Linked DNA regions of Homo sapiens: region 2 is linked to region 1. A link means that fine-mapping ties the variant in region 1 to the expression of a gene that starts in the linked region. Tissue or cell type: whole blood. Region 1 holds a variant in brackets; the other region holds the start of a gene. All regions are shown on one strand. Distances are from middle to middle.

Region 1 (2,755 bases):
GTCAGGAACAGTGTGGGGAAGATTCCAGCAAGGCAGGGGATGACATCTTGAAGACGGGACAGCGCTCCCTACCCCTGTACCTGAGCAAATCCACTTTCCCTCCCGAATCCCACCCACCTGTTCTGGGCCCCGCCTCTCAGATTCCTCTGAAGGTTGACAGATACAATAGCCCAAAACATGCCACTTTGCAATGAGGATCCTGTTGAGCTGAAAGCAACTGAGAAGAAGCAGATAGAAGAAAAGCTCTCTCTGCCAGGGTCGGTGGCTCCCACCTGTAATCCCAGCACTTTGGGAGACCAAGGCGGGTGGATCACCTGAGGTCAGGAGTTTGAGACCAGCCTGACCAACATGGAGTAATCCCGTCTCTACTAAAAATACAAAATTAGCCGGGCGTGGTGGCACGTGCCTGTAATCCCAGCTACTCGAGAGGCTGAGGTAGGAGAATCGCTTGAACCCTGGAGGAGAAGGTTGCAGTGAGCCGAGATAGCACCATTGCACTCCAGCGTGGGCAACAAGAGCAAAACTCATCTCAAAAAAAAAAAAAAAAAGAAAGAAAGAAAGAAAAAGAAAGAAAAGCAGGCCAGGCGCAGTGGCTCATGATGTATGAGAGGCTTGGCCAGGGACAGTATAAGAACAGGCACAGGCCAGGTGTGGTGGCTCACGCCTGTAATCCCAGCACTTTGGGAGGCCGAGGCGGGTGGATCAGGAAGTCAGGAGTTAGAGACCCGCCTGGCCAACATGGTGAAAACCCATCTCTACTAAAAATACAAATATGTGCCGGGCGTGGTGGCACAGGTCTGTAATCCCAGCTACTCGGGAGGCTGAGGCAGGCGAACTGCTTGAACCCGAGAGGTGGAGGTTGCAGTGAGCTGAGATTGCACCATTGCACTCCAGCCTGGGCAACAAGAGCAAGATTCCGTCTCAAAAAAAAAAAAAAAAAAAAGAAGAAGAAAAGCTCTCTGCCCTTCCCGTAGCTGCCAAAAAGCAAGACATAAATTTATAAATGTGCCCACCCCGCAAAAAAAACCACCAGGAAGGACAAAAGTTGATCCCAGAGACACCTCCAGACCCTAAACTTCCTGGGGCCCAGAGGAGTAGACTTAACCGACTCCACTCCTAGCTCCCATCTTCCATTCATCCCCCATATATTGACCCTCTCACGATTTGCTGCCCTAGTGCTTTCCCTTCGTCTTTTCACTTCACTAAAATGTATTCTTCTTTTGTTAAGTTGCTACATAAACCCCAGTTCTAACCACCCTCTTGAGTCACTTACCTCTGAGTACTCCC[A/G]TGTACAAGTGTCATAATCAACTTCTGTTTATTTTTCTCTTGCCAATCTGTCTTTTGTTAGTCTAATGAATAGGGTCCCAGCCAAAGAATCTAAGATGGGTACACGCCCTACCCACCTTCCTTCTCTCTTCCTCAAGATTCCGAGCGCTCACTGCTATTTAATCATCTCTACCTGTGCCTGTTCTCTTTTTTTTTTTTTTTTGAGATGGAGTTTTCTCTTGTTGCCCATTTTTGAGTGCAGTGTTGTGATCTCAGCTCACTGCAACCTCCACCTCCCAGGTTCAAGCGATTCTCCTGCCTCAGCCTCCCAAGTAGCTGGGATTACAGGTGCACACCACCATCCCCAGCTAATTTTTGTATTTTTAGTAGAGACAGGGTTTCACCATGTTGGCCAAGCTGGTCTTGAACTCCTGACCTCGGGTGATCCACCCACCTTGGCTTCCCAAAGTGCTGGGATGACAGGCGTGAGCCACCGCACCTGGCCTGTGCCTGTTCTTATACTGTCCCTGGCCAAGCCTCTCATACTCCACCATAGTTTCCTCATCTGTGAAACGGGGATTTCAGGAGTACCCACTTCCTGGGCACATATGTGAGGCATGAGGACTAAACTCTGATTTTTTGTTTTTGTTTTTTTTGAGACGTTGTCTGGCTCTGTCGCCCAGGCTGGAGTGCAGTGGCACAATCTCAGCTCACTGCAAGCTCCACCTCCTGGGTTCACACCATTCTCCTGCTTCAGCCTCCCGAGTAGCTGGGATTACAGGTGCCCGCCACCACGCCCGGCTAATTTTTTGTATTTTTAGTAGAGACGGGGTTTCACCATGTTAGCCAGGATGGTCTCGATCTCCTGACCTCGTGATCTGCTTGCCTCGGCCTCCCAAAGTGCTGGGATTACAGGCGTGAGCCACCGCGCCCGGCCTAAACTCTGATTTTTATCTTGCCCAAATTCCTATCTAAGGGGTCTGGGGAGCCATGCCCTACAAATCATAAATTCTCTTCAGATGGGTTTTATTTAACCCTAGGTATTGTGACTGACTTTCCAACCTGACTGACTCTGGCATAACATTATGAGACAAGGAAGAACATCAAAATATTTTACCCCAAAACATGTTTCTTTGTCATATTTTGAAATGTCCCTACAAAGCTGTTCCTTGCTAGGGAAAATTTGCATCTGTAAAGAATCTCTATTAACATAGCTAGATCTTTTTCTTCCAGAACCTCACAATCCTATAGAGATTAACTAAGATCTGAATAGGAAACATTTGCCATTTATTGTCTCTAAAAGCAGCCACTATAAGACTTCAAAAGAACTTTGGTGTCCACAATATTTATCTTTTTTTTTTTTTTTCCTGAGATGGAGGTTTGCTCTTGCTGCCCAGGCTGGAGTGCAATGGCATCATCTCGGCTCACCGCAACCTCCACCTCCCGAGTTCAAGCGATTCTCCTGCCTCAGCCTCCCGAGTAGCTGGGA
Region 2 (2,755 bases), 26 kb after region 1:
AACTTTATGCGTTTTCAAGAAGTTGCCTGAAGAAGGAACTTCCTTGTGCGGTACGCCTCAGGAAAAAAGAAGCAGGAGAAAAGCTTTGAGAGGAGAGCAAGTGACGGTGAGATCGTAATGGAAGTGGGGTGGAGAGGTGGAGGGTGGAGACCGGTAGGAAGCAAGCAAGGCTTTTTTCACCCGTCCCAGGACACGCGAACGAGATCAAGCCTCACTGCGGTTCACTAGGGTCTATGCAGGCCCTCGCACCCCTGCCTACCTCCTCAGAACCCAGCCTCTTGGCTCTTCTCACCCCAGCCCCACCAGACAGCTTCCCTCCCAGGAGGTGTCTCTCAAGATCTCGAAATGTGGAGCGTCCCGTTCACTCCACCTGGCCTGGAATACTTTTCCTGCCCCCTTTCATCGGGTCTTATTCATCCTTTAAGTTGTTCAGCATAACTTTCCACCTGAATGCCTTCCCTGGCCCTGGACTAGGATAAATCCCCTCGCCATAATGTTCCTACACAGGCATCACTTTGTAAAGCTTACCACTGTTGTAATTACTTGTTTACTGATCTGTCTTTCCGTTAGGCTGTGCGTTCCACTGGGGTGGAAACCTTGTTCACTGGCTCTGCAGCCCCGGGCACTGTGGGTCTTGCATGTACCGGGGGCTCAGTAAATATTTGGCAAAAAATGAAAAAGTTCCCCTCAAAGCCAGCTTCCAGTGCCTCCACGGCCCTCAAATTAATTATGAATTAATTCACTAATACAGCAAACCTTTATGTGATTCTTCCGTGTCACAGCACCTTGTTACATACTGAGGACACATCCACAGGCAAATAAAACTCAGCTTCTCTCTGCACAGGAAAAAATTATTCAAATTGTATTCATCTTTCATTCCAATCACTCAATTAGGGCACGTCCCTTGTTGGCTGCTGCGTGAGCGAAGTAACTATTTTCCAGCGAGTGTCCTCATGTGACCTGTCTAGACGTGCCCAGGAAAAACAATCCAACATCCTCCTAAGCCGCAAAGAAGTCCCTGACGCGCAGGCCGCACTGCGTGGAAGGCCCAAAGCGCGCTCGCGGGCCCGCGAAAGGCGCAGGAGCAGCGGAGCCGAGGCGGGCGGCGAGGCGCGCGGCGCGCGGCGCAGGCTCGGGTGGGCAGGGCAGGGCCAGGCCGGGCGGGGCGGGGGCGCCGGCAACGGGTCCGCCGGCCGGCAGGGGGCGCGCGCGCCCCGCGCCCCGCGCCTCCCGCCCCGCCGCGCGCTCGCTTGCCGCGCGGCCGCACATGTGTTTCTGTTTTGTGTTGTAGCATTTGTTCTGGAAGCTCGTATTTACATTTTAAGTGTATCTGGTGAGTGGGCTGGAGCCCTCGTCTGGGCCGGAAAAAAAAAAGCCCTCCGATCCGTCTTTTAGTTGCTTCTCTTCCTTTTTTCTCTCCGGTTTCTCATCACTCCAACCAGGTAGGGTCTGAAAATCGACAGTGATCAGTTTGTGGGGTCTGGGAAAGTTTTTTTTTTTTTCCTTTTTTTAAAGAGAAAAGGTTAAAAAAAAACCTGGGGGAGGGGGGCTGGGTGATTGAAGGAATAAAAAGAGGAAGGAAGGCGGATCCACGTGGTTTAATCGGAGACAGACAGAGATCCCATTGTTCAAAATCAATTAAAAAAAAAAAAAAAAGCAGACAGGGGAGAGCGCAGGGACGCCGGGGAGCTGGCGGCGGCCCTGGACACTTTGCAGTCGAATCGGAGACCGGCCGGGCCGCACGGCCGGCAAGGGGGCTGGGAGAGAGTTGGGCACCATTAAAGTTTTTATTTTTCGTGTCTGTGCGAGCAGGTGTTTGGGGCTGGGGTCCAGCTTTCTTCGGGCTCTTCCCCCGTCGCCGGGGGCAGTCCGCCGTAGGGATTCGGCTAACTAGAGCCCGAGGTCGGCACCCCTGAGCTGGGGCCGAACGGGGGTCCAGGGCTGATGCGGGGTGGGGGAGAGCGTTGCATTAAATGCCATGAGTGGGTTTGGGGGGAGACTGCGGAGACAAAAGCAGCAGGTGGGGTAGCCGGGGAGCAGGGGCTCCCTTACCACCCAGGTGCCAAGGGGGAATCCTGGAAGTGTCCCGAAGCCTTCTTTAATGAAAATCTAGGGGACTGGAGGCTGGTTTTACTTTCCCTTTACTTTTGGGGGGCGAGGTTGCAACTGTGATGCTTTGTGGGCAAACCTAACTTACGGATAGGCCGGGGGTCTCAATTCTCCCTCCAGGGGATTGCCTCTGGGGCTCCCGGCTGCCCTGCGGGATTCCCCGAAGGAGCCGCGCCGGGGCCAGGGAGGGGCGCGATTTCCTCTCCCAACTCGCCCCCTCTCCGCCCACCCTGCGGCCGCCACTTTGGGGAGGGCAGAGGAGGAAGTGGAGGCCGGGTGGCTCGTCTCCGCTCCCCTCCCCCCGCGCAGTTTATAACCCGTCCATTGTGCGCCGCTGCCCCGTGTCTCCCTCCAGCCGCGACCATGCCCAGGAAGAAGGCGGCGGCGGCGGCCTGGGAGGAGCCGAGCTCGGGCAACGGCACTGCCCGCGCCGGGCCCAGGAAACGCGGCGGCCCGGCGGGCAGGAAGCGCGAGCGGCCCGAGCGCTGCAGTAGCAGCAGCGGCGGCGGCAGCAGCGGCGACGAGGACGGCCTGGAGCTCGACGGGGCCCCCGGCGGGGGCAAGCGCGCGGCGCGGCCGGCGACAGCAGGCAAGGCGGGCGGCGCGGCCGTGGTCATCACCGAACCCGAGCACACCAAGGAGCGCG

What was found. PIP is the estimated chance that this variant, and not a neighbour inherited with it, causes the effect.
Region 2: it holds the start of RCC2, and the variant in region 1 is fine-mapped to the expression of RCC2 in whole blood (INTERVAL, PIP 0.99).

What each region holds. Positions count from the first base shown.
Region 1 is chr1:17,463,919-17,466,673 of GRCh38, reverse strand. No RefSeq gene overlaps it. Among named protein-coding and RNA genes, the nearest start is that of RCC2, 26 kb to the right of the region's middle. The variant A/G (reference allele first, on the strand shown) is at 1,288.
Region 2 is chr1:17,438,232-17,440,986 of GRCh38, reverse strand. It overlaps RCC2 (regulator of chromosome condensation 2), which reads left to right and starts at 1,310. Exons shown (of 13, transcript NM_018715.4): 1 at 1,310-1,442; 2 at 2,465-2,755. The coding sequence starts at 2,473. LOC124903862 (a long non-coding RNA gene) reads left to right here. Exons shown (of 2, transcript XR_007065508.1): 2 at 1-851. RefSeq lists silencers at 1,071-1,210, 2,530-2,629.